Homo sapiens: one gene and its partners. The protein of the gene in region 4 purifies or fractionates together with the protein of the main gene of each other region. This does not show direct contact. Each region holds a gene or a part of one and is shown on either strand. Other genes may lie near its edges.

Region 1 (7,024 bases), on a different chromosome or scaffold from region 4:
TTAAAATAATGTGCATGCAATTTGGCCATTTTTTCTAAGTGTGCGGGTCTGGAGCCAGGTTTTGTCACTTAAATAATCATTTTATTTAAGCCTTTAAGCATTTTATTGGATTGGCTGCTTGTCTTTGTTTTAACTCATTTCTCTAGTTTTGATCAGTTCTCCGAAGCCAGGGTCAACCTCAGCACTGTCAACATTTACGGCTGGATAATGTTGGTTTGGGGAGCTGTCCTGCGCATTGTAGGATGCTTAGCGGCATCCCCAGCCTCTACCTGTTATATGCTAATAGCCCCCCCGACCCCTGAGTTGTGACAACCAAAAATGTCTACATGTGACAACAAATGTTCCCTGGGGAGGTGGGGGGAAAGTCACACCCACTCGAGAACCACTGTTTCTAAACCGCCCTTTTGTATTTTGCTATTTTATGTTCAACCTGAAAATGGTTAATCTGGTAATGTTACTATTCTATTAAGAAATTGATATGAAAATGTTACTGAGGCCAGGCACAGTGGCTTACGCCTGTAATCCCAGCACTTTGGGAGGCCGAGGCGGGCAGATCACAAGGTCAGGAGTTCGAGACCAGCCCGGCCAATACGGGGAAACCCCGTCTCTACTAAAAATACAGAAATTAGCTAGGTATGGTGGCAGGTGCCTGTAGTCCGGGCTATTCGGGAGGCTGACGCAGGAGAATTAGGAATCTAGGAGGCAGAGGTTGCACTGAGCCGAGATCATGCCACTGTACTCCAGCCTGGGCGACAGAGCGAGAGTCCGTCTCAAAAAAAACAAAGGTTGCCCGAGTGTGGTGGCTTACGCCTGTAATCCCAGCACTTTGGGAGGCCAAGGCGGGCAGATCCACCTGAGGTCAGGAGTTAGAAACCAGCCTGGCCAACATGGTGAAACCCTGTCTCTACTAAAAAGTACAAAAAATTAGCCAGATGTGGTGGTGGGTGCCTCTAATCCCAGCTACTCTGGAGGCTGAGGTAGGAGAATTGCTTGAACCTGGGAAGCGGAGGTTGCAGTGAGCCGAGATGGCACCACTGCACTCCAGCCTGGGCCACAGAGCAAGACTCCATCTCAAAAAAAAAAAAAAAAAGTTACTGAAACCAGAAAATCTGTTTTTTTTTAAACCATAATTTTTTTTGAGACAGAGTCTTGCCCTATCACCCGGGCTGGAGTGCAGTGGCGCGATCTCGGCTCACTGCAACCTCCGCCTGCTGGGTTCAAGCCATTCTCCTGCCTCAGCCTCCCAAGTAGCTGGGATTACAGGCAGGCACCACCATGCCCGGCTAATTTTGGTGTTTTTTAATAGAGACGGTTTCACCATAATGGCCAGGCTGGTCTCGAACTCCTGACCTTGTGATCCACCTGCCTCAGCCTCCTACAGCGCAGGGATTACAGGCGCGATGTCGGCTCACTGCAAGCTCCGCCTCCCGGGTTCATGCCATTCTCCTGCCTCAGCCTCCTGAGTAGCTGGGAGTACAGGCGCCTGTCACCACACCTGGCTAAGTTTTTGTATTTTTAGTAGAGATGGGGTTTCACCGTGTTAGCCAGGATGGTCAGCAAGACCCCATATCTAAAAAAATTTTTTTTAATTAGCCAGGTGTCTTAGACAAGGTAGAATGAATTAAAAAAAAAAAAATTAGCCAGGTGTAGTGGTGCACGCTTCTAGTGCCAGCTACTCAAGAAGCTGAGGTGGTAGGATCCCTTGAGCACAGGAGTCTGAGGTTACAGTGAGCCGAGATCATGCAACTGCACTCTAGCCTGGGTGGCAAAGCAAGACCCTGTCTCAAAAAAAAAAAAGAGTTCGGGTGTGCAAGAGAGAAGAAAAGGAGTTTGGGTGTGCAAGAGAGAAGAAAACGTTAATAGGCCAGTAAGTAGGTCTGTCAGCTTGATAATGACTTTTTTCAGTTAAGAAGAATGGAAGAATCTCATCAAGAAGCAACAGAGAAAGAAGTAGAAAGAATCTTGGGATTGTTGCAGACATATTTTCGAGAAGATCGTAAGTGTAACACCATTCAAAGTGGAGCAATTTGTATTTATCTGTTCACTGAGGTTACTTGTATTTAAAAGGCAATTTCAGCTGTATGTAATATTTGAATAAATACATATGCATTTTATGAGGATTCTTCTCCCCTTTAGAAATTTCATGTGAAAACTTTGAAGTTAACGTTTTCATTTTTATCTTTAAAAGATGGGGATTTTTTTTGTTACAAAATGAAATATGCCATTCAAGTGAGAAATGTCAAAAGTAGCTGTTCCACCTCCCCTCATTATAAAATGTAATGTGTATATTTTCAGATTATTTTATCAGTTTTATACACACCTACCTAAATAGTTTGTTTTGGCCGGGCGTGGTGGCTCACACCTGTAATCCCAGCACTTTGGGAGGCTGAGGTTGGGAGTTCGATACCCGCCTGACCAACATGGAGAAACCTCATCTCTACTAAAAATACAAAATTAACCGGGTGTGGTAGTGCATTCCTGTAATCCCAGCTACTTGGGAGGCTGAGGCAGGAGAATCGCTTGAACCCGGGAGACAGAGGTTGCGGTGAGCCAAGATCACGCCATTGCACTCTAGCCTGGGCAACAAGAGCGAAACTACATCTGAAAAAAAAAAGTTTGTTTTTTTCTTTTTTTCCAAGCTAATCATAATATGCACATTCTTCTGCTACGTGACTTTTCCATGTGGACATTCTTCCACATCATTTCATATAGATCTCCCTTGTTTTGTTCACTGATTCCCATTATATGGCTGTACTGTAAATATATTTAACAGATCCTCCATTAATGGATGATTAAGTTCCTTTTTTTTTTTTTTGAGACAGAGTCTCGCTCTGTCGCCCAGGCTGGAGTGCAGTGGCGCGATCTTGGCTCACTGCAACCTCTCCCTCCTGGGTTCACGCCATTCTCCTGCCTCAGCCTCCCAAGTAGCTGGGACTACAGGCACCCGCCACCACGCCTGGCTAATTCTTTTGTACTTTTAGTAGAACCTGGGTTTCACCGTGTTAGCCAGGATGGTCTTGATCTCCTGACCTTGTGATCCACCCACCTCGGCCTCCCAAAGTGCTGGGATTACAGGCATGAGCCACCGCGCCCGGCCAAGTTCCTATTTTTTTTTTTTTTTTTTAGGAGACAGTCTCACTCTTTCGCCCAGACTGGAATGCAGTGGCACCATCTCAACTCACTGCAACCTCCACCTCCTGGATTCAAGCAATTCTCCTGCCTCAGCCTCCTGAGTAGCTGGGATTACAGGCGCACGCGCCACCACATCTGGCTAATTTTTTTTCTGTATTTTTAGTAGAGACATTGTTTCGCCATGTTGGCCAAGCTAGTCTTGAACCCCTGACCTCAGGTGATCTGCCAGCATCGGCCTCCCAAAGTGCTGGGATTACAGGTGTGAGTGCCATGCCCAGCTGGATGATTAAGTTCTTTATAGCATTTTACTCTTGTATAAATTGCTGAAGTAAAAAATCTTAGTATGTAATTTTGTGCAGTTACACTTGTATTTCTGTAGCACAGCTTCTTAGAGGTGGTTTCCAGGTCAGTGGGCATACATGTTTTTAGTAGAGATGCCAAATTGGCCTCCAGAAGGGTTGGATTGATTTGCACTCCTGCAGCAGGAATGAGTACACATCCTTTCTTTGTCTCTGGCTAACGCTAGAGTGTACTGATATTAATGACAAGCAAAAATCAATTTTTTTTTCTCTTTTTGTCTATAGCTGATACCCCAATGTCCTTCTTTGACTTTGTGGTTGATCCTCATTCTTTCCCCCGTACAGTGGAAAACATCTTTCATGTTTCCTTCATTATACGGGTAAGATTAAAGATTATTTTTCTAATTGCTTTTATATGCTTTTAAAAGGCTACATAAGAAAAGCTGTAGAAGGGAGCTGGCAAAGGTATCTGTATACACTAGCCAGTATATGTTTCAGACCCATTGTAGCAAAACATTAATTGGCATATTAGGTAGAAGAAGCTAGCTAAAATTTTATATGCTTGCTTTTATGTTTTAGAAATTATTTAGAGAAAGAATTGGAAAAATTTGAATATGGAACTTTAGATTAGATAACAGTATGGTATAAATGTTAAATTTCCTGCATTTGATAGTTGTCATGTTGTATAATATCCTTGTTCTCAAGAAATACACACTGAAAGATTAGGGAAAAGAAGCAGGCCGCCTATCATTCTCACTTCATTCATAAATAATAATATGTAGAGTGATAAAGTAAACGTGGTAACTAACACTTTAACGACTGATGAATATGGGTAAAGGATATATGCCACGTGTTTATAGTAGTCTTATAGCCCTTTAAGTCTGAAATTATTTCAAAATTGGTTTTAAAACTCTACTCAGATATGTACCATGGAAATTTGCTTTAGACTATCTTTAATCTTACTTCAGGTTGCATTCCCACATGTAAGATGAATTTGATTATAACCTTAGAGAAAACCTATGTCTACCAACGTATTTTCTCAGAAATAATAACAAAGGCATATTTTGCCAGTGGTCCCAGTGACAGAATTATGCAGAATAAAATGTGGAGTATTCCAAAATATGTATAAATCAGTTAAAGAGACAAGATGAGTTTCACTTAAGAGATTCTCAGGATGGAGGCTGTGTCTGGGTGAAAGAGCTGATTAGAAACCCAAAGATACCCTGTGTAAATAAAAGATACTAGGGAAGTCTTATCTATATCATCACCTTATTATTGCTATGGTGTAATTTGATTTTCTGAGATACTGAATTTTCTGAGTAATTTTTTCCATCTAGTGCGTATAGGTTTGAGTCTTAAATGTTTGTCTTCTCCTAAAATCATGTTTTCGTTTTAGGATGGTTTTGCAAGAATAAGACTTGACCAAGACCGACTGCCAGTAATAGGTAAATGATACTATGTTTGGAAAAATTAGTTTTAGAGAAAATATATTTGTTAGTAGAATTTAAGTATTTTACTAAATGTAAATGAATTTTCAATGTAGATTAACTTTTACAATATTGTATCTTGCTCAACTACCTGAAGATACTGAAAACATGGCCAGCGTCTAAAATTTTGATGGATTCATCTATATCATTGATTCAACATCTGCTGTAAATATTAACAAAGAAATGATATAATTTCCCTCAGATCTTAATTTAGAAAGTTGGTGATTGCAGTCATTTTTGTAGTATCCCTCTTTCTAATCACGTTTTGTCAGATGCCGGCACCTTCTTTTCTCTTTGAGGTTCTATGAATCTTTCATTCTTACCTGAATAATTTCACACTCTCCATTACTCATGTCCTCCTAAGGTCTCCTGTGGAGAGTGAATATTTCCATCGCACTTACTTGCTACTTTCAATGTTCTCAATGTCCTATTGGACTCACTAGGGCTTAGCTCTGTGGTTGACACATAGATATGCAGATTTTCAAATGTCTGGAATGTGTTACTCTACTACATGTTTTTTGAAATGGAAACAGATGGAATGACTGGCTACTGTAATAATACTACAGCAGCTCCATAATGCATGAAATCCTAAAAAGTATGTAATATTATAAGTATCTTTTCAATACAGGTTTCATTGCTATTATTCATCAGTTTCCGTTTAGATTACCTGTTCCGATTTAATAACCTTTGATAAATTTGAAAAATTTGTCTTTCAAACAGAGCCTGTTAGTATTAATGAAGAAAATGAGGGATTTGAACATAACACACAAGTTAGAAATCAAGGAATTATAGCTTTGAGTTACCGTGACTGGGAGGTAAAGCTCTGCCTGTTGCCCCTGCATAGTTCTGACTCTGCCTTCACTTGCAGTAAGCCCAGTGCCTAAATGTTCATTATTGTCTGCCAGGAGATTGTGAAGACCTTTGAGATTTCAGAGCCTGTGATTACTCCAAGTCAGAGGCAGCAGAAGCCAAGTGCTTGATGCTAGCTGAAGGTAACCTTTTCAATGGGATGGCTACACAGTTCTATTAAAGTTCATTTGGCAATCCAAAGTATCCCTTTTCCCCATTCCAGTGAAATTTGAATTTTTGCCTCCCTGTAGTGCCCCATTCTTAGAACTGTGTGTAACAGGTGAGAAAGGGATAGTGGTTCTGCGTTCCCTTCTCTGGATTGATTAAATTTGTGCTGTTAAGATTTGCAGCTGAGGCCAGGCGTGGTGGCTCACGCCTGTAATCCCAGCACTTTGGGAGGCCAAGGCAAGCGGATCATGAGGTCAGGAGTTCGAGATCAGCCTGACCAACATGGTAAAACCCCATCTCTACTAAAAATACAAAAATTAGCTGGGCGTGGTGGCATGCACCTGTAATCCCAGCTACTCAGGAGGCTGAGGCAGGAGAATTGCTTGAACCCGGGAGGTGGAGGTTGCAGTGGCTGAGATCGTGCCACTGCACTCCAGCCTGGGAGACAGAGCAAGACTCTGTCTCAAAAAAAAGACTTGCAGCTGAAAGAAGCAGTGCAGGATTGTTCTTGGTTTGGTGGGTTTTGTTTTTGTTTTTGTTTTTAATAAAAAATAGGGAAGGGGTCTCACTATGTTGCCCAGGCTGGTCTCAAACTCCTGGGCTCAAGGGATGCTCCCATCTCAGCTTCCCAAAGTGCTGGGATTATAGGTATGAGTCACCATACCCAGCTGCTGCTTTTCCCCCAACAAACTGGTAAATTAGATAAGTGAAATATTGAATCCTCTCATCCATGTTGTTGTTCACCATCCCATTAGATTTGCTTATTTTATAAGTACAAAGCAGAAAAAGAGGATTAGGATAGAATTACCTTAGAATAATCTTGGTAAATTGGCATTTCTAAAATTTGTATTAGGCTATGAAAGAATTCTTCTTCATTTTTATGAAGGGTAACATTTCTAGAAAGAAATCTTAATAATGATCTGACATTTTGTAGTGCAGACAGTTGTGGGTGGGAATCAGAAGACCTAGATTCTATCGGCTATGCCCCTTACTTTATTTATTTATTTTTGCCCCTTACTTTAAAACCTTGGGCAAGTCACTTAATCTCACCCAACTTCTCTTTTTTTTTGAGACAGAGTCTTGCTCTGT
Region 2 (7,792 bases), on a different chromosome or scaffold from region 4:
CCTCCCAAAGAGTTGGGATTACAGGTGTGAACAACTGCACCTGGTTAGCTCTTTGATTTTCAAAGCATCATATAGATTTCACATAAACAGCTGGGTTTCTTATACGGAAATAATAATGCATGTTGTTCAATGTTCAGGAAATTTTATTTGTTCAGGAAATTTTATTTGTTCAGGAACTCATCTATTGTACAAAGCAAAATATTCCTATCTCATAAATAGAATTAAAATTTGAATGACTTACTCTTAAATTTTTATTTATGCAGCAAAATAAGGAATAAAAAATTAACAATTATTGAGGGAAGAGGGACTCTTAATTATCTTAGAGTTTTTACATAAATCAGAAAAAAGATTTTTTTTTCTTAACTATTTAGAATTATCCAGAATTGGAGCAAACAAGTAGCCTATAAAATGAGTACTAAACTCAAGTACTGAGTGGCTTGAATTTAGTCTGCACTAAATGGATCTTGACCAAGGCTACTGGAAGGAGGAAAGTGAGTGTTGGTATTGAACTTTGGGACATCGTGTATACACAGTAAAAAAAAGTGTAGCTATAGTTGAATTTTTAAAAGTTTATTATCAAAATGGAAATTGTTTATTGTTCATAACTCTTCATTAATCATTCTTATTAAAACAAATGTATGTATTGCAACAGTTTTAGTTTCAGAAATTATAAAGGTAGTAGTATTGAATTAGATTTGTTATAATGAATATACCATACTAATGTAAAATGTTAAAAATAGAGGAAACTGGGGATGTATCGGATATATGCAAACTGTTAGTACTATCTTTCTTTGTTGTTTTTTTTTTGAGACGGAGTTTCACTCTTGTGGCCCAGACTGGTATGCGGTGGTGCAATCTCTGCTCACTGCAACCTCCGCCTCCCGGGTTCAAGTGATTCTCCTGCCTCAGCCTTCCTAGTAGCTGGGATTACAGGCATGTGCTACCACGCCCGGCAAATTTTTTATTTTTAGTAACGACGAGGTTTCACCATGTTGGCCAGGCTGGTCTTGAACTCCTGACCTCAGGTGATCTGCCCGCCTCGGCCTCCAAAAGTGCTGGGAATACTGGCAAGAGCCACCGTGCCCAGCCTGAGTACTATCTTATCAATTTTTCTGTAAAACTAAAATTGCTGTAAAAAACAAAGTCTATTTAAAAAGAAACTAAATAAAAACAAGAATCACTAGTTTTATACAATCTCTTTGTTCTGGGATTGTTTCCATTATCTGTAAAATCTAAGCATTCAGAGATAAACAAATATTAAAATATTCCTTTAATATTTTACTTTTGAAAGAATCATATTACTTAACTATTTGAACCATTTCTAGATTTAGTACAGACTCCTATTTAATATTTGGCTTGTTAGTACCTAACAAGAATACTACAATGTAGATTTTTATTTCCTCACTGAAGTGAAAATTTTTTGCTGTCTGTTTTCTCTAAGTTTAAAGCATATAGTTTTATTTTCTTTTAAAAGTTAAGATTTTAGAGTTAAAAGTGAATTTATATTTTCTAATTAATTAAGCATTTTCTAAAGCTAAAGACTAATCAACATCTTTGGAATATTTGTTACATATATAGATTACAATAAAAATGTATGCAGTTCACAACAGATGGTAATGTGAAATTTTATCTCGAGCTGGTATTTCAAGTATTATTTCAAAACCTATTCATACTTATTACCTTAAGTTTATTCTTTTAGCTGCTTTATAATTTTTTTTTTTTAATTTTAACCCTGTTGAAGATTGTAACAAATATATTCTAGTTGCTACAGTCTAAAACAGTGCTTGGAAATACTGATGCTTAGTGTTATTTCTATGATTACTTTAATAACATTTCCTGAGTTTAATTTTTTCATTACCCAGCTATCTTTCAGAACTGGTATATTGATTTTTCTAATTAATATTCTTTGTACTTGGGATGGTATTTTTATTTTGTACTTCTAAAGAATTGAATAGCACAACCATTATAAGTGATGTGCTTGCTATGTTATCATATAAATGCTCAAGGTACACCTTCTAATGTTGAAAAATAGGAAAATAAATTGACCTTGATGAAGTGTGTCTTCTTTTGTCTGTTCCCAGGAAAGTTTATTTCAGGTATTTCTACTGCTGAAATGATTAGCGTTAACAGCTTTTCCCCTCCATTTTATTTTACAGGGTCTCTTCATCTTCCTGATATATGGGGTGTACAACACAGAGGTAAGTCTGCTTGGAGTATCTCAAGGCTGACAGAGTGAATGAGAGAAATGACAGGTTTCTTATCTTGATAACTGAGGAACAAAGTTGGCTTTTCATATGAGTGTCCTACTGCCCTTCATGCTTGGACTAGCTTATATGCATCCCAGCTTACCATTAAACACTGACACCCTGAATAAAGGGACAGCCTCATTTCTCACAGGCGTTGACTAATATTTTACGACTGCCTTAAGTTTTTGAACTTTCAGTCTTTAACACTTAGCTATTGTAGAAAAAAACAAAAACAAAAACAAAAAAACAACTCAGCCTCTCCTATACTCTCACTCAACAATCAACACAGAAGATTTCTGCGACCAAATGTGTAGGGGTTTCTCCCCACACACCGAGCAAGCAATCAATTCTGCAGCAGACACCACTGGGGTGTCCTCCAATTCAATTCTGACACTACCTACCTGGAGACAGCATCAGATCCCCCAGATTAAGAGCCCAGGCCTACAAGACTGGCCGGCCGCATTTCAGATGCCAATCACAAGCCCCAGGTAGTTTTACCTGTGCTTCTGACTGACCAGCTGTAAATCGGGGTTCCCATGACCCCTTCCTTGGGCTTGATTAATTTGCTAGAGCAGCTCATAGAACCCAGGCAAACACTTACGTTTTCCGGTTTACTATTAAGGACATTACAAAGGCTATCGATGAACACCAGATGAAGAGATGGATGGGGGAAAGTCTGTGGGAAGGGGCGCGGAGCTTCCACGCCCTTTCCGGGTGCGCCATCCTCCTGGAACCTTCACGGGTTCGCTTACAGGAAGCTCTCCAAACCCCGTCCTTTTTTAGGTTTTTATGAAGGCTTCATTACACAGGCATGATTGATTAAATCATTGGCCATTGAAGATCAACTTAACCTTCAATCCCTCTCTCCTCCCCGGAGGTCGGGGGGTGGGACTGAAAGTCCCAAACTCTAATCCTGCCTTGGTCTTTCCGGTGACCAGCCCCCATCCTGAAGCTACCTAGGGGTTGCCAGCCATCATCAGTCGCTTCATTAGCATACAAAAAGACATTTATTACTTTGCAGATTCCAAGGATTTTTAGCAGTTGTATGCCACAAAACGGTTCAAAGTCCAAATATATATTTCACAATATCACAACTATACTTGACAGTATTAAAGTGTCAGTTTAAGTGGTGGAATACTTACATGTTGTTTCATGGGATTAGAAAAAAAGCAATTTCTTCTTATCTCAAAATTCTCATTAAATATTGTCTGTAAAATTTTTAGGGCAGGCTGAGAGAGGTCCATAAGTATTAGTAAATAATCCCTATGGTTTCGATTGTGAAATTTCCCAGAGAATTTATTATTTAATTATGAGAAGTTATTTAGCTAGAAACATTGTGATGTACATGTAACTTCATTAAGAAAACATACTATGTAAATAAGCTGTTGTCATAGTTCTAGTTCTTTTATTTAAAATTTCTCATTTATAAATATCCTTTGCTAGGAAAGTGTCTGGTTTAGATTTCTGCATGCTTAACATGAAATCGAGTGCCTTGTGTACATTAGACACTGAATAAATATTTGTTGTTTGATTTTGTTGATATAACTTTGATTTTAAGATTTTACTTCATAATTTTCCCTTACAAGAAAAATTTCTAAATTTGCAATGAGTTTCTCGGTATTCTGTACTGGCGAGGAAAGAGTTGATCCTAGCAGAGCTCTTAGAATGGCCTGGTGGTTAATTTTTCATAAACAATATAAAGGGCCAGGCATTCATAACGTGGCAAACAGACTGATTAGCCAGGCTAAGGTACGGGGGCATTTAAATAAGATGTAATGATAATGAAGTATGTGTGTGGGCGTGTTTTACAGGACTGCTGCACCTGGATTACGCTCGGTTTCCTCTTCCAGTAGCCTTCAGGAAGGTTGGCAGTAAGACAAGTTTTTTTCTTTTTCTTTTTTTTTTTTTTGTTGCAACGGTACCACTAATTGCGGTTTCAAAGCAGGCTCCTCCCATAAATGCAAAGGATATGCGCCCATTATTAGTGCTTCCAAATTCAAAGGGATAACATAAGCACCTGTTTTAATAAATGTTGAGCATTTGGAGTTGAATGCTTCTTGATAGAATCAAAAGTGCCCTCAATGATCCACTTCTAGGTTTGAATTTTATTTCAAGACCTGGATTGCAAAACCTAGAGTGAAGAAAGCCCTAACATTGAATCCTCAGTTTCCCTCACCTTCTCTTCCAGCCCCTTTCTCTGCATCTCCCACGCCACGCTGTAGTACAGTCCCCCGTAACTTCCCGCCCCTTGGGTTCCACCTCCTGAGCGTCTTTCCCCCAGAAACCCTCAACCACTTTCATCTCCTTCAGTGCAGCCCACCAATCACGCCTGTTCGCCTCGAAAGCCCCTTTTTAGCAGGGCTCCAAATCCCCGCCTCCCCTGCCCTTGCTCCCCCGCCTCCGCCCAACGGCCCCAGTGATTGACAGGCAGGCCGGGCGGAAGCTGCGGCGCAGGCGCCCTGGCTCCTTAGCCCTCCCCTCTGGCCGGGTCGAGGAGTTCCCAGCAGACACTGCGCCGCGGCTGCGCAGTACACGGGAGGCTTTTAATTCCATTGTGGAGAGGACGGCGTTATTTTTATTAACTGGAGGCGACGGCGGCTGCGGCGGCGGCGGGACCCGTAAGTATTGCCGGTGGGTCCAGGAGGGAGAGGGCGAGGCCTGGGGAAGAGTCGCAGGACCATGCGTGCCGGTGCCGGAGGCGACTGGGCTGGGAATTAGTGCTGGGCGCGTTGCGGTCTGGGCGGCGGCGCGGCGGGGTCCTTAGCGCTGCGGTGGTCCCGGCCCGGGGCCCGGTTCCACCTCCTTTCCTCCCTCTTCCCTCTTCCTCCTCCTTTCTTCAGCCAGGCCTCCTCCGGGGTATGAAAATCGGCAGTGGGTTCCTGAGTGGCGGCGGAGGTACCGGCAGTAGCGGTGGTAGCGGCTCCGGCGGCGGTGGTAGTGGCGGCGGCGGCGGCGGCGGCAGCAGCGGCAGGAGGGCAGAGATGGAACCCACCTTTCCCCAGGGTATGGTTATGTTCAACCACCGTCTTCCCCCGGTCACCAGCTTCACCCGGCCGGCGGGGTCGGCCGCCCCTCCCCCGCAATGCGTGTTATCCTCCTCTACCTCCGCAGCCCCGGCCGCTGAGCCCCCCCCTCCGCCAGCCCCGGACATGACTTTCAAGAAGGAGCCGGCGGCGTCAGCCGCGGCCTTCCCCTCGCAGAGGACCTCCTGGGGGTTCTTGCAGTCTTTGGTTAGCATCAAACAGGAGAAACCCGCGGATCCTGAGGAGCAGCAGTCCCACCACCACCATCACCACCACCACTATGGGGGGCTGTTCGCTGGAGCTGAAGAGAGGTCTCCAGGCCTAGGAGGCGGTGAAGGGGGGAGTCACGGCGTCATCCAGGACCTCAGTATTCTCCACCAGCATGTCCAGCAGCAACCAGCCCAGCACCACCGTGACGTATTACTCAGCAGCAGTAGCAGGACTGATGACCACCATGGCACTGAGGAGCCAAAGCAGGACACTAATGTCAAAAAGGCAAAAAGGCCAAAGCCAGAATCTCAGGGAATCAAAGCCAAGAGGAAGCCAAGTGCATCTTCCAAACCTTCTTTGGTTGGAGATGGAGAAGGTGCCATCCTCTCCCCAAGTCAGAAACCTCATATCTGTGATCACTGTAGTGCTGCTTTCCGAAGCTCCTATCACCTGCGGAGACATGTCCTCATTCATACAGGAGAAAGACCTTTCCAGTGCAGCCAGTGTAGTATGGGTTTCATTCAGAAATACCTACTACAGAGACATGAGAAAATTCATAGTAGAGAGAAGCCATTTGGATGTGATCAGTGCAGCATGAAGTTTATTCAGAAGTACCATATGGAGAGACACAAGAGGACACATAGTGGAGAAAAGCCATATAAGTGTGACACTTGCCAACAGTATTTTTCAAGGACTGATAGATTGTTGAAGCACAGGCGCACATGTGGTGAAGTCATAGTTAAAGGAGCCACTAGTGCAGAACCTGGGTCATCAAACCATACCAATATGGGTAATCTGGCTGTGTTGTCTCAGGGAAATACAAGTTCTTCAAGGAGAAAAACAAAGTCAAAAAGCATAGCTATTGAAAATAAGGAACAGAAGACCGGTAAAACAAATGAATCGCAAATTTCAAATAATATAAACATGCAGAGTTACTCAGTAGAAATGCCTACCGTGTCTTCCAGTGGAGGCATAATTGGCACTGGAATAGATGAACTGCAGAAGAGGGTGCCAAAATTGATCTTTAAGAAAGGAAGCAGAAAGAATACAGATAAAAACTACCTTAACTTTGTGTCACCATTACCAGACATAGTAGGACAGAAATCCTTGTCTGGAAAACCAAGTGGCTCACTTGGCATAGTATCAAATAATAGTGTGGAGACCATTGGTCTTCTCCAAAGTACAAGTGGCAAACAAGGTCAGATAAGTAGTAATTATGATGATGCCATGCAGTTTTCAAAGAAAAGAAGATATTTACCAACTGCCAGCAGCAACAGTGCCTTTTCTATAAACGTAGGACACATGGTCTCCCAACAGTCTGTCATTCAGTCTGCAGGTGTCAGTGTTTTGGACAATGAGGCACCATTGTCACTTATTGACTCCTCAGCTCTAAATGCTGAAATTAAATCTTGTCATGACAAGTCTGGAATTCCTGATGAGGTTTTACAAAGTATTTTGGATCAATACTCCAACAAATCAGAAAGCCAGAAAGAGGATCCTTTCAATATTGCAGAACCACGAGTGGATTTACACACCTCAGGAGAACACTCAGAATTGGTTCAAGAAGAAAATTTGAGCCCAGGCACCCAAACACCTTCAAATGATAAAGCAAGTATGTTGCAAGAATACTCCAAATACCTCCAACAGGCTTTTGAAAAATCCACTAATGCAAGTTTTACTCTTGGACACGGTTTCCAATTTGTCAGTTTGTCTTCACCTCTCCACAACCACACTTTGTTTCCAGAAAAACAAATATACACTACGTCTCCTTTGGAGTGTGGTTTCGGCCAATCTGTTACCTCAGTGTTGCCATCTTCATTGCCAAAGCCTCCTTTTGGGATGTTGTTTGGATCTCAGCCAGGTCTTTATTTGTCTGCTTTGGATGCTACACATCAGCAGTTGACACCTTCCCAGGAGCTGGATGATCTGATAGATTCTCAGAAGAACTTAGAGACTTCATCAGCCTTCCAGTCCTCATCTCAGAAATTGACTAGCCAGAAGGAACAGAAAAACTTAGAGTCTTCAACAGGCTTTCAGATTCCATCTCAGGAGTTAGCTAGCCAGATAGATCCTCAGAAAGACATAGAGCCTAGAACAACGTATCAGATTGAGAACTTTGCACAAGCGTTTGGTTCTCAGTTTAAGTCGGGCAGCAGGGTGCCAATGACCTTTATCACTAACTCTAATGGAGAAGTGGACCATAGAGTAAGGACTTCAGTGTCAGATTTCTCAGGGTATACAAATATGATGTCTGATGTAAGTGAGCCATGTAGTACAAGAGTAAAGACACCCACCAGCCAGAGTTACAGGTAA
Region 3 (7,024 bases), on a different chromosome or scaffold from region 4:
TTAAGTTTCATTTTGTTGCCTTTTAGCCCCCCAGAAGTTGCAAGTAGAACAAGAGGAAAACAGGTGACTTTTATTTAGACTGTGCTTTTATGTCAAACACTTAAAACAATATTATTTACTGTTCTGCTTAATAACTTTATGTTTTATTCTCTTATAGGTTTAGTTTCAGGCATTCTACATCTGTTTCTAGTCTAGCTGAAAGATTGGTTGTCTGGATGACTAATGTAGGTGAGAGCTTCTTTGTTACCTCCTAACTAGGCCGTGCTTCCTCCAGACTAGCTAGAAGTGGAAGGCATGAGGAGAGAGGGGCTCTGGCTTTGTGAAAAGGCCTCACAAGATTGAGATTATGGTTCATCAAGCCATATTCTTTTTTTCTCGACAATCTCACAACTTTCATATAATAATATTTGGGATACCAGCTTTTTATCTTGATGCATAAGGAATCTTTATTTGCCATTTAATTGGAACATTTGAGGCTGTGGCTATGTAAGCTGGTCTCTGAGAATGGAGAACTCTAATCACCTACATACACACCTGAAATCATTGTGATACTCAGATATCAGAAATGGGTGGTTTTGGCAAAGTCTAAAAGCAATAATATAAACATTTCAGGGTATACTTTTGAAGGATAAATGCACTTTTGAAGGGATTTCAGGCACCAAGATGAACATTGAACTGGGAAGAGGAAGAGGAAGGAAAAGAGTTCTATATTCCCTATTCCCCAAACCTATGCTCCTAGGTTTTAAATTAAGTAAAATACCAAAGAAATTTTTTTTCACAAAGAACTGAAAAACAAAAATTACTGCCACGAAGACATGATTTTAAAAATGAGGATGTTATATGGGATGTATGTTAAAAAGTAAAGTTTTAATGAATATTAAAAGATGTTTTTGAAGTCTTATCTAAAGTATGTTCTAAATGAAGTTTCTGACAGGTTTTTTTTTTTTTTTTTTGCATTTTACCTTAAAAATGACAATAACTGTTGCATAGTATACATACAGGATACCTATGCTGAAAAATATTGGATTAGTTCTATCCATTTGTATATTGCATAATATTTAATAAGTGTTATTCTCATATAAGGAAACATTTTTTGCCTCAATAGTTAATCGACTTTTTATATTATAAATAATGCATAGTATTATGAAATTTAGAAAATCATAAGAAAAACATGATTTAATTAACCTGAGGATAAATTTAAATATGAAATATGGTATACTTACAAAATAATATGTCAAACGTATATGTTTAGTTTAGAGAATGGTACTAAAGTGAGTATTGATGTACTGGTCACCCACCCCTAGAAATAGAATATTACCCGCATAGTAGAAGGCCCTTACATATCTGTTCTTGGATGGTCCCCTCCTGTCACACACCCCAATGTTATAGTGAACCACTGCCCTACCTACATTTGTGTTACCTTACTCTTGTTTTTCTTTATAGTTTTACATCTTTATAAATTGCTAGGTCTTATGTAGTTTTGAAAATATATAGATGTAAATATGTGTTCCTTTTTCTTCACTCAACTTTGTTTTTTAAAGATTCATCCATGTCGACTCATGTAGCAGTAGCAGCGGGCCATTCATTTTCTCTGATATAGAGATTACTTTGTTTGAACATATCATAATTTAATTACCCATTCTATTGATGATAGACAATCGGACTCACCCCTTTCTCCATCTCTTTTTTTTTTTCCATAACAAACCAGTATTGCTAATGAATATTTTTATACCTGTGTCTTTGTACATGGGTATAAGTTTCTATATGGCTGTTGATGGATCAAATGGGTGGATTGACCTATACATACCAACTGTTTTCCAAAGTGGTTGTACCAGTTTACACTACCATTGGCTATGGATAAGCATTATTGTTGCTTGGGCCAGGCGCGGTGGCTCATGCCTGTAATGCCAGCACTTTGGGAGGCCGAGGCGGGTGGATCACGAGGTCAGGAGATCGAGACCATCCTGGCTAATACGGTGAAACCCTGTCTCTACTAAAAAAAAAATTACAAAAAAAATTAGCCGGGCATGGTGGCGGGCGCCTGTAGTCCCAGCTACTCGGGAGGCTGAGGCAGGAGAATGGCGTGAACCCGGGAGGAGGAGCTTGCAGTGAGCCAAGATCGCGCCACTGCACTCCATCCTGGGCGACAGAGCGAGACTCCATCTCAAAAAAAAAAAAAAAAAAAAAAAAAAAGAATAAAAAGAATTATTATTGCTCTACATAGTTGCCAACATTTAGTATTGATTGGCTTTGACATTTATATTTCTCAGTAGCTTTAATTTGCATTTTCCTGATCCCTAATTAGGTAGAGCATCTTTTCATATGCATGTTGCCCATTTATGTTTCCCCTTCTAGGAAATGTCTTTTTGTCCTTTATATTTTTCTATTAGATTGTCTTTTTTTCTTCAGGTTTTTACAAGTTCTTTCAAAGAGACTTCCTATACTAGTCCTTGATGTCAAGACATTAGTCTGGTAGTAAGATGAATAAAATGAACTTATTTGTCAGGATAGATATTGTTGCCAACTTCAGTCAGGATAATTGGGACAGTGGCGAGTCTAAATTAAAATTTTTCTCTCTTCCTTTAACCATTAGGATTCACTTTAAGAGATTTGGAAACTCTTCCCTTTGGAATTGCTCTTCCCATCAGAGATGCAATTTATCACTGTCGTGAGCAGCCTGCCTCAGACTGGCCAGAAGCTGTCTGTCTCTTGATTGGACGTCAGGATCTTTCCAAGCAGGCCTGCGAAGGAAACTTACCCAAAGGGAAGTCTGTGAGTATCAACATAGAAAGTTCAGAGTTCCAATTTTAGCCTTAAATAAAATCATAAAGTAGAAATGTTCTTCATTTTCCTTTAAGGCTTTTTCTAAGTATATATATTAGCTTGTCTTTTATATTATATGCCAGACGGGGTTTGTAATTGTACGCGTCTTATTAATTGTTAAGATGAGCATTAGGAGCAGGAGATTTTGTGAATGTTCTGTCTTGTGCCTGGATCTTTCTTTGCCTTGAATCAGGACAAGTCCTGAGGGTAGTCATGGAAACTACCATGGCTATTTCCCTACTTGTACCATATTAGTAATTAACCACTTTGTAATTATTACATAGGAAAAGGGAGAGCACATATATCCTGAATTTGGATGAGTAATTATATATAAATATTTTCTACTGCATATTTTTTGATGTGTTGAATTTTTTGAATTTAACCTTTTAAATAGGTGTAAACATATTTGTTTAATCACATAAAACTGCAGCCCCAGGGAAAAAATGTGTTTTTTTCAGTAGAGTTGTTTAAAAACATGTCTTAAGCTATCCCTCCCGAAATACTGTCTTTCATCAATCATCAAGTCTGTTTTTTTTTTCAAATGAGTTCTAGGAATCCTGCAAGTAGAAAGTTAAATTATTTCATTACTCTCCAATTATCTTTTTAAATCATCCTCACCATGTTGGCCAGGCTGGTCTGGAACCCCTGGCCTCGGGTGATCCGCCCACCTCGGCCTCCCAAAGTGCTGGGATTACAGAGTGTGAGCCACCACACCCGGCCAGCAATATAGTACTTTTTAGAAAGATTTGTAGATTAGAGTCCCAGTATACATTGCGGCTCCAACCCATGCCTGCTTTGGAAAACATATTTTCTCTGTGCTAGTATAGTCAAGACACATCAGCCTATATATCCTCATGTTCAGCAAGTGCATGTTAACTGCTTTTGAAATTATTATTACAATAAAGTCTGTTACTCAGGTGCTCTCATCAGATGTTCCTTCAGGAACAGAAACTGAGGAGGAAGATGACGGCATGAATGACATGAATCACGAGGTCATGTCATTAATATGGAGTGAAGATTTAAGGGTGCAGGATGTGCGAAGGCTTCTTCAGAGTGCGCATCCTGTCCGTGTCAACGTAGTGCAGTACCCAGAGCTCAGTGACCACGAGTTCATCGAGGAAAAGGAAAACAGGTGAAAGAAAACACGTGCACTATCTCTTGTCATGTTTCATTGTTACATTTGTGTCTTGTGTATATTTGTTTTTCCTTCAAGTTTTTAGCATTTAAAACCCTAAAGAGATTTAAAAGATACTTTCAAGTGAAAATATGCCCTGTGTTTTAAGTTTTCATCCAACTTCAACAAACCACGTGTGTTAGCAAAATGTCTTTGGCTTTTGAGGACGTAATTGTTGTATTTCATATCGTCCTCCTCTTGAAATACATATAACACTTTACTCTTTAGAAAAGGTGAATGTAAAACTATTTTGCCTGATAGTTACCTTAAGAATTTACAAACAAAGAAAACACTGGACTTGTTTTTCTGTGTCTTGATCAGGAATAGATTTTGAGGTTAGTGGGGTTTTTAGTGTAGTTTAAACTTGTATGAGTATTTTTTTTTTTTGGATATGATAGATGATACTCCAAATAAAAATAGATAAGCCTTTCTTCTGCCACTCCCCTGCACAGGATACATCCCTTGATACATTATAAGACTCACATGCCTATGACATTCCAGAGCTATTCTCTTGGGACACTTCTGTTTTAAAATTCTCTCCTGTTCTTTTATCTGCTTGTCTCTATCATCTATCATTCATCTGCCACTGTTTTCTAGTTCTCTTTACTTTTTTTATGGTACTGTTTTGAGGGGAACCATCACCCACACTTAGCCACAGGCTGCTGAAGATCTGAATTAGTTGTGATTTCCCTATTAACTGTTTCCTCTCCACATGTACCCAGTTATTAGTCACCTGTGAATAAAAAGATGGAGTGACAGAAGTTGAGTTTAGAGCATAGGATTTATGAGCATGGCCTCTAGAGCCAGGCATGGCCATGCTGTGCTGGGTGACTTTGGTTAAATTACTTTACCTCTTGTTGCCTCAGTTGCTTCATTTGTAAAAGTAGGCATACTTCATGGGATGGTGCTGTGTATCAAGTGAATTATTTTTACATAGCACTTAGAATACTGCTCAATACATAGTAAAGCTCAGTGCAGTCAGCCATTATTAGTAGTAGAGTTCATTGATTCTAAGATGCAAGTTTTTTCACTTTTTAATATCTCTGAAATCAGTTGTGTATTTCAGTGAACAGGTGTCATAGTTTAATTGGCAGTGCTTTTTCTTTCTTAGTTTCTCATGAAATAATGATACATCTTATCAGTGGCATCTTATATTCAGGGGATATAATATTGTTCTCATTATAATTTTGTTACTTGCGCAAAGTTGAAGTGAATTATGTGTAAGATTTCCTCTAAAAAAATTCTATGGGTTGCAACAGCCTCTTGGCTTTGAATTTTCCTGATCCCAAATTAATGTTGCGGTTGTGTTCCCAGAGAATCTTTAAGACAGCAAAATTTTTCTTTCCAGTTAGCTAGAAAAGCAGTTATGTGTGTCCAGTTAAGGAGGGAGTATGCTTATGAATAGCTTTGTCTGCAGAGAAAATGTTTGTCAGTTGTCAGCCTCTGAAGGGATATTTCTGTGTCTTCAGATATAGCTTGTATAGGCGTTTCTTAGTTATAAATGCCCTACTTCCAAAATTTCTGTTAGTTTTTTTTAAGTGGCTATATGGAATGTTAAGCTATTTTAACATAGGAAGAAGTTGAAGAGTGGTGTATTAATTTCACAGTAGAGCCAACAGAAACCATTTTAACCTTGAACATACCTGATACATAATGGTATTAGTCCTATAAATCTAGCCATCATGTAAGTGAAACCAATCTGTATTTCCCTTGGAGACACCATGAAATCCATTCACCTCTAACACAAGGACCTTGTTTCTTTTCTTGTGTACAGGCCACAGAAATGGTACTTCTGAGGCTGTATTGGCAAAAGGGATGGGAGGAGGATCCCACATGTACTGAGGACAGCTAGACTGAAATTAACACAGTGATAAAAACCCCAAAAGTACTGTATTTTCCTTTGAGAAGGTTAGCATCCATCGGAGTGGAATTTTAAATTTCTTTTTTTTTTTGAATGCCTAGAGAGAGTCGGCTGGGTTTATAGGCCAGGTGGTTTTCATTCAATGTAAATATGAAACAAAACAGAGGAAATATGTCTCTCCCTAAGAGTGTAATAGGAACAAGAATATTAAAATGAAAATAATCATGTTTGGGTAGTTCACTCACATCTGTGTATGAATTTACTTTGAGACAACTTCATCTTATACAGTACACCTTCTTTTGAAATACTTACAGATGATATTTCAATTGCTCTTTGCTTTAAACATTTTCATATGTTGGTTTTTACTTTAATTACAGATTGCTCCAATTGTGTCAGCGAACTATGGCTCTTCCTGTAGGACGAGGAATGTTTACCTTGTTTTCGTACCATCCTGTTCCAACAGAGCCATTGCCTATTCCTAAATTGAATCTGACTGGTATGTTAAATTCTGGGCTCAATGAGAAAGGAAAATGATTAAGTACATGCATTAAGTGTAGTTCTTTAAATTAGTTAAAACAAAAGAAATGCTCCCTCTATCCCCAGTGATTTAAAATTTTCCTAATAGCTGCTGTAGTGGTTATCAAAGCTCAAATGCCATGTGAAACTAAACTTTGAGAGAAGCAGAATATAGTTCATTACTCATTTTTGCTTTTTAATGAGGTGATTTTAAGATCTAAAAAGTCACTTGGAGAAGTTCAGAAAGATATTATTGATAACGATGAGACTTGAATTTTAAATAATCTTAAGTTTAATATGTAAAAATATTTAGTTTTAAAATGTCTTACGTCATAGTTTAAACAGATGATCATTGTATAAATCAAGAAATGTACTAAGCAAAAAGAGAAACAATGGTCGCTTGCAGTACTCCCACTCTTCTGCATCACTCCTTTTAACATTTTAGTATATATGTTTACTAAGTTTATTTCCACATATTTATAATTTTATATTTGTTTAATTATCAGAAAATTTATATCTATTTTAGATTTTTTTAAAAATTTACAGTGAACATCCTTTTATATCTAGCAAATAAATGTATGTGTTTATAATTATGTGTATGTATTGTATACACGTGTTTTTAATCAATACATTCATTTTTATTTGCTTCA
Region 4 (6,891 bases):
GGGTTTCACCGTGTTAGCCAGAATAGTCTCAAGCTCTTGACCTCGTGATCCACCCGCCTCGGCCTCCCAAAATGCTGGGATTACAGGCATGAACCACCGCGCCCGGCCAGCAATGAATTTACTTTCTTTCCCTGTGTGCTTGCTTGCTTCCTTTCTTGTAATATAATAGGCAGGGTTTTCTGGTGTTTGTGTTAGAAAAGGTTCCCAGCCAGGCGCGGTGGCTCATGCCTGTAATCCTAGCACTTTGGGACGCCAACGCAGGAGGATCCCTTGAGCTTAGGAGTTTGAGACCAGCCTGGACAACACAGGGAGACCCTGTCTCTATTTTATGTAACTACATTTAAAAGATAAAAATAAAAAAAGTTTTTAAAACGTTCCATACTAGCTCAGTCTGACGTTGGAACCAGAAGTGTTTTTATACATAAAGGGCACATCCTGATGATTTCCCTAAAAATCTGCAGACAGTCTCAATGGTGAATGAAACTCTATTGTAGGAACAGAATGGTGTGGGCTGCTTAGAAACAACAGTTTTCTTTTGTTTGTTTGTTTTACATACAGGGTCTTGTTCTATTGCCCAGGTTGGAGTGCAGTGGTATGATCACAGCTCACTGCAGCCTTGACTTCCTGGGCTCAAGCAATCCTCCCATCTCAGCCTCCCAAGTAGCCAGGACTATAGGCATGTGCCATCACACCCAACTAATTTTTAATTTTTTTGTAGAGACTGGAGGGGGTCTGTCATTGATACAGGAGTGGGGCAGGGAAGTGCTGGGTAGAGAAAGGCAGGGTCCCTGGTGAGGGCCCCACCCATGGACCCAGGTGAAGACAGGCACTCCTGTTTTTGTGCCCAAATGTTGCATTTTCCAAGACCACTCTGGCCCGCACACCCCCCATCTTGTGCCTATATAAACCCCAATACCCTAGTGGGCACACATACAAATGGCTGGATATGGAGAGGAACACATCAGAAGAACACACGGACGCTGACAGGCCATCAACTGCAGAAGGATGCGGATGCCTAGGGAAATTCAGCTGAGGGTGGTTGAAGGAGAGCCAGGCAACTCCAGGGGAAGACCACCTTCCCACTCCATTCCCCTTCTGTTTCCCCATACATCTGCTGAGAGCAACCTCCACCATTCAATAAAACCTTGCACTCATTCTCCAAGCCCATGTGTAATCTGATTTTTCCAGTACACTAGGGCAAGAACCCAGGATACAGAAAACTCTCTGTCCTTTCAATAAGGCAGAGGGTCTAATTGAGCTGATTAAAACGAGCTGTCTACGGACGGCTAAACTGAAGAGCACACAGTAACACACGTCTACTGAGGCTTCGGGAGCTGTAAATACTCAACCCTAGATGCTGCTGTGGGGTTGGAGCCCACGCTCCCCACTACCTGCCCGTCTGTATGCTCCCCCTAGGGTTTGAGTTGCAGGGCACTGAGGAAGCAAGCCACTCCCCCGCTGTCACACACCCTGCTAGGGGGATAAGGGAACTTTTCTTGTTTCATTACTATGTTGACCAGGCTGGTCTTGAACTCCTGGCGTCAAGCAATCCTCCCACGTTGGCATAAGTGCTGGGATTACAGGTGTGAGCCACTATGCCTGGCGTAAACAACAGTCTTCTCAGTGCTTTGACTCATCAATATTTCAAAATATTTTGGGTCCATGCTTGAGCAGGGGGTTAACATGGAGAAGACAATGGGGGCTGTGAACTTGTGAAGAGGGGGCTATCACTTGAGGGGAGGACTGGACTTGCTTACTTGCTCCTGAAGGCAGACTGGTACTGGAAGGGGAAACTCTGGCTTCATGAGGCAGAAACTTCTCCAAATCATATTAACGTGGTAGCAGCTCTTCACCCCAGGATTTGGTGATCTTGATACCTGGTTTGTTTGTTTGACCCCTGTTCAAGCCAACAAGCCAGGTATCAAGACCACAAAAATACAGTTTTTTTCTTGGGTGAGGAGAGAGATTTTTTGTTTGTTTAGACAGGATTTCTCTCTGTTGCCCAGGCTGGAGTGCAGTGGCTCACTCATGGCCCACTTCAGCCTTGAGCTCCTGGACTCAAGCGACCCTCTCACCTCAGCCTCCCTAGTAGCTAGGGAGGACTACAGTTATGCGCCACCACACCCAGCTAATTTTTTTTTTTTTTTTTTTGTAGAGACAGGATTTTGCCATGTTGCCCAGGCTGGTCTCAAACTCCTGGGCTCAAGCAATCCTCCCACCTCAGCCTCCCAAAGTGCCGGGATTACAGGCGTGAGGCACAAAAATACTGTCGATAGCCAGAAAAATAATGTCTTAGCAACTCACATCCATGTTAGTTGTTTGTTTCTAGGTCTTGCTAGCTCAAATTCCACTTATCCGTCTTAATCACCATCTAAAAGATGCCTTTGTTTTTGAGAATCCATGTGTTTGTGTAGGTTCACCACTTTCTTTTAATCTTCTGAATACCTAAAATAAACCTTTGAAATCTAGATCACGCACAGTCTAGGTTGAGATGAGAGAATACTGAGCGGATGGTTGTGTATGTATCAATGTGTAGAAAAAGGCATCCATCGTTATGGCAACCAGCATCCTTAACTGATGCAATCCTGTTCCCAATAATATGAGATGTGATTAAAAATTGACATTGCAGCAAGGAAGAACACATGCAATGCGTTGGCGTGGCAACCGGAATAGTTAAATTCTGCATAAATTTAAACCTGTCGATCACAGCAATTTGGAGAATTTGCCTACATTTCATTAGGAACCCTTTTCTCATCTGGCCTGGGAGGGAATCAGGAGCCTGGTGGTCTGACATGTGGCCATGACTTAAGGCCAAGTAAAATCAAGGGATTAAATTAAATCATTGGTGTGGGAGAGGGGCTGGATGGTGGACTGTACCAAAAGTTACCCTGTTTTCATCTGCATACCCTACATCATTTAGTCACTCAACAGATATTTATTAAGCACCCACTCTGTGCCCCGCTCTGGGCTAGGTACTAGGAATACAAAAACTAATATTTCCTACCCTCTTGGAGCTTGAAACCTCTTAGCCTCTGGAATTACTCAAATCTATGTGAAGTGCCAGCTGTGGTATGTGTAAGCGAGACAGGTATCTTGTGTTACCAGAACCAATAACAAGGAGATTTGATTAATTAGAGAGATCAGGTGGAGGCGAAGAGATCAGTCAAAGTGAAGCAGAGAGGGGCAGTGATTGCTACACCACCACAGGAACCCAAACTGAAAACGACCATACGCCATGAAGTGGGTGATAGTCTTTACCAATGTCGAAATGGAGGACCTGGGGGATACTGATGTTACCCAGCCCTTCGCAGTGGGGTCACCCAAAAGTAGACGCGGCTAATGCCGCTCTTTATGCCCGGCAGGGCCAGGACCAGAGTCCCCGCACGAGGGTTCCTCTCTCCGGTCGCACGTGCCCTTCACCCTTCCTGAGGCCGTTTTCTGACGCTCCTGAGCTCCCCTCCAGGGTGAGGGCAGGCGCGGTGGGAAGGCGTTGGACAGAGCAGACACTCGGCTGGGGTGCATGCCTGGGTGCAGCCTCGTCTTTTGTCACTAACCACTCAGCTCGGTAGCCCTCCAGGCTCTCTCTTCGAGCTCCGCGGTCCCTGCGCCCCCGCTGCGCTCTGCTAGCTGTGATGCAGGGGTTCGGGGGCAGGAAAAATCTCGACCCGCCACGCCCGTGCGGCAAACCTGTCCTAGGTTGAGGGGGCATGAGGCGCGCACAACCAGGGCCTCGAAGGCAGGCAAGAGGGCGCGGGCGCCACAGAAGCCTGGGCCTGCGCCTGGGCCGGGCAGATGTGCCCGGCGCTCGGGCCCCGCGCTCTGCGTCCTGCAGGGAGGCGGACCCGCCCCCCGAACGCGCAGGCGCGCGGCGCCCGGCTCGGACCGTAGCTAGGCGCTGGGCGGCCACCGGCTGGCCAGGCAGGTAAGCAACCAGCGGTGCGTGGGCTCAGACCTTGCGTCCCCTGGGCGCCGCGCCACCCCGCTCCGTCCAGGGCGGCGAGGGCTCAGGTCTGCGGCCCCGGCGTCTCGCTCCTTCCGAGCGCCTCCGGCGGGGGGCGCGGGCTGGGGAGGAGGTTCGGGAAAACGCCGGGGAAAGCGGTCTGGGCGGAGCGCGCAGGGGGCCAGGCGGGTGCGGGACTCCAGGCCCAGCCGACCCTGCGGCGTGGCTTCGGGCTGCGATCAGGAGGGGCGAGGAGGGTGGAGGCTGCGTGTTTGGAGATACGCAATCAATTAAGAGTTTTTTTATTAATGGAAAGGTGTGGAGGGCGGGGTTTTGGTTTTCTTGGGAAATGAATGAGTCATTTGGCAAACTTTCCTACCATTAATTTTGGATTTTTATAATGGAATATGGAATTTTTTTTGTTTCTCTCTCTTTTTTTTTTTTTGGCCATAAAGAGAAAGAATAAAAAGAATTCCGCCATTTTAGCGTTTTAAAAAGTAACCGTTCTGCGGAACTGTCGGATCAGTGACCGCCCCGCCCGCCTTTGCCTATACCAGTCCCGGGAGGCTGGTGGCGGGTCCCGATCCTGGAACCCTGCGCTCAGGGCCGCTTCCGTCCCCTCCCGAGTCCGGGAAGCAGCTGCGGCGAGGGGCGGGGCCGAGGCCCCAAGTTTGTAGCGCTCAGCCTTGCTGTGTGTTGTTTTCTGGGTAGCTGTCGAGGGCTCTACTCCCCACCCAACACCTATAGTAAGGACATTTATTGGTCGTTTTTGTATACAAGGCCTTGGAAGGCAAGGGATTGAGAAAACCTTGTCAGACATCAAGAGAAAATACCCATGGACACATTCAGCCAACAGATATTTATTGAGCATCTGCTATGTGCACGGCTCTGGGCTGGGGCTACAATGGTTGTTTTAGGTCGGGTCCCCCGAAACAGACTCCGATAGCAAGATTTGAGTGTAGGTTTATCGGAGTGCTCTTGCGAATATCACCAGTAGGGGAATGACGGGTTGGGCGGAAGAAGAAGCTGAACTGCTGATGTAGTCTCAACAGAGGCCTCAGCCTGACCTAATGGAAGCTCTGGAACTGAGATGGCCCTGCAGAGGTGTTCCAAAGTAAGGCAAGGGGGTGGGGTCTTTACACCTCATAGCAACTCGTCATTGGCTGGCGGCTTCTAGGAGAGCCTTCAAGTGAGGTAGCTCCCTAGGCTCAGAGCAGTTCCAAGAGAGGCTGACGGCAGAAGGCTGAAAACTTTCTTCAGTGTCCACCAGAAACCCAGACTCTTCTGAGTCCCCCCTCACTTCATGGCAGACTCCTTCTCAGTCCCTTTTGCTAGACCCTTTTCCTCTTCCCAACCTATAAATGTGGGTGTGCTCCAAAGTTCCCACTTTTTTCTTTATACTCAGTTATGTGGTTTTTTCTTTTTTCTTTCTTTCTCTCTCTCTCCTTCCTTCCTTCCTCCCCTCCCCTCCCCTTTCTCTCTGACAGGGTCTTGCTCTGTCGCCCAGGCTCGAGTGTAGTGGTGTGATCATAGCTCACTGCAGCCTTTACCTCCCAGGCTCAAGCAACCCTCCCACCTCAGCCTCCCCAGTAGCTGGGACCACAGGGGTGCACCACCATGTTCAGCTAATTTTTAAAATCTTTTGTTGAGGCTGAGGCCTCACTATGTTGGCCATGCTGGTCTCAAACTCCTGGGCTCAAGTGATCCTCCCACCTTGGCCTCCCAAAGTGCTAGGATTACAGGCATGAGCCACCAGGCCTCGCCCCAGTTCTGTGGTTTTAAATGCCATCTACACATGCTGGTCTTCAAATTTATACCTCCAGCCCCAACCTCATCCATTATCTCCAGAATATAAGCTTCATGAGAGCATTTTGTCATGTTTGTGACTGTAACCCCAGAGCACAGAATGGTGGTGACACCTACTTGGTCCTCCCATGCTTGCTGGAAAAGAGGCAGCGAACCCAAACAGAAACGTAGTCTTCAAATCCAGCTTCTTCAATAGACCTGAGATGTGACAGGTTTTGACACAGAGTGAAATTCTTTCAGAAGTAACCACATTCACTCTTAACTGCCAGTGTTTCAAATAAAAAGATTAACTCTATTTATTTATTTATTTATTGAGACAGGGTCTCATTTTGTCACTCAGGCTGGAGTGCAGTGGCGCGATCTTGGCTCACTGCAACCTCCACCTCCTGGGTTCAAGGGATTCTCCTGCCTCAGCCTCCTGAGTAGCTGGGATAACAGGCGTGTGCCACCATGCCCAGCTAAATTTTTGTACTTTTGGTAGAGATGGAGTTTCAACATGTTGTCCAGGCTGGTTTTGAACTCCTGGCCTCAAGTGATTGGCCTCCCAAAGTGTTGGGATTACAGGTGTGAGCCACCACGCATGGCCTGCCTGGCTAACTTTTGTACTTTTTGTAGAGATGGGGTTTCACCATGTTGCCCAGGCTGGTCTCCAACTCCTGAGCTCAAAGCGATCCACCCACCTTGGCCTCCCAAAGTGCTGGGATTATAGGCGTGAGCCACCACGTCCAGCCTAACTCTAAAGGTATTTAAAATAGTACAAGTACTTCAGCTGTGCAAAGCAAATTGGAATTGAAATTCAGGGAATTATGTTTTATAATTTTCTTTCTTTCTTTCTTTCTTTTTTTTTTTTTTTTGAGGTGGAGTCTTATTCTGTTGCCCAGGCTGGAGTGCAGTGGCATGATCTTGGCTTACCGCAACCTCCACCTCCTGGGTTCAAGCAATTCTCCTGCCTCAGCCTCCCAAATAGCTGGGATTACAGGCGCCTGCCACCACACCTGGCTATTTTTTTTTTATTTTTTTGTGTTTTTAGTAGCAATGGGGTTTCACCATGTTGGTCAGACTGGTCTTGAACTCCTGACCTCAGGTGATCTACCCACCTCGGCTTCCCAAAGTGCTGGGATTAGAGGCGTGAGCCACTGCGCCCA

The links.
Region 1: the proteins of L3MBTL1 (region 4) and NSMCE4A purify together in Homo sapiens (affinity purification with mass spectrometry; 2 studies listed by BioGRID and IntAct, with this or other methods). This does not show direct contact.
Region 2: the proteins of L3MBTL1 (region 4) and ZNF281 purify together in Homo sapiens (affinity purification with mass spectrometry; 3 studies listed by BioGRID and IntAct, with this or other methods). This does not show direct contact.
Region 3: the proteins of L3MBTL1 (region 4) and ANAPC1 purify together in Homo sapiens (affinity purification with mass spectrometry; 5 studies listed by BioGRID and IntAct, with this or other methods). This does not show direct contact.

Annotation. Positions count from the first base shown.
Region 1 is NC_000010.11:121,958,210-121,965,233, reverse strand, and holds part of NSMCE4A (non-structural maintenance of chromosomes element 4 homolog A), read left to right. Parts: intron 1-1,905; coding exon 1,906-1,996; intron 1,997-3,126; coding exon of another isoform or gene 3,127-3,233; exon of another isoform or gene 3,234-3,481; intron 3,482-3,716; coding exon 3,717-3,811; intron 3,812-4,827; coding exon 4,828-4,876; intron 4,877-5,015; coding exon of another isoform or gene 5,016-5,041; exon of another isoform or gene 5,042-5,635; intron 5,636-5,638; coding exon 5,639-5,733; intron 5,734-5,823; coding exon 5,824-5,898; 3' UTR 5,899-5,910; intron 5,911-7,024. UniProt on the Homo sapiens protein: Component of the SMC5-SMC6 complex, a complex involved in DNA double-strand breaks by homologous recombination. The complex may promote sister chromatid homologous recombination by recruiting the SMC1-SMC3 cohesin complex to double-strand breaks.
Region 2 is NC_000001.11:200,407,018-200,414,809, reverse strand, and holds the start of ZNF281 (zinc finger protein 281), read left to right. Parts: upstream 1-4,773; 5' UTR 4,774-4,864; intron 4,865-5,086; 5' UTR 5,087-5,104; coding exon 5,105-7,792. UniProt on the Homo sapiens protein: Transcription repressor that plays a role in regulation of embryonic stem cells (ESCs) differentiation.
Region 3 is NC_000002.12:111,818,170-111,825,193, reverse strand, and holds part of ANAPC1 (anaphase-promoting complex subunit 1), read left to right. Parts: intron 1-26; coding exon 27-63; intron 64-157; coding exon 158-228; intron 229-2,593; coding exon 2,594-2,772; intron 2,773-3,728; coding exon of another isoform or gene 3,729-3,740; coding exon 3,741-3,955; intron 3,956-5,771; coding exon of another isoform or gene 5,772-5,793; exon of another isoform or gene 5,794-5,905; intron 5,906-6,235; coding exon 6,236-6,354; intron 6,355-7,024. UniProt on the Homo sapiens protein: Component of the anaphase promoting complex/cyclosome (APC/C), a cell cycle-regulated E3 ubiquitin ligase that controls progression through mitosis and the G1 phase of the cell cycle.
Region 4 is NC_000020.11:43,503,823-43,510,713, forward strand, and holds the start of L3MBTL1 (lethal(3)malignant brain tumor-like protein 1), read left to right. Parts: upstream 1-3,874; 5' UTR 3,875-3,922; intron 3,923-6,891. UniProt on the Homo sapiens protein: Polycomb group (PcG) protein that specifically recognizes and binds mono- and dimethyllysine residues on target proteins, thereby acting as a 'reader' of a network of post-translational modifications.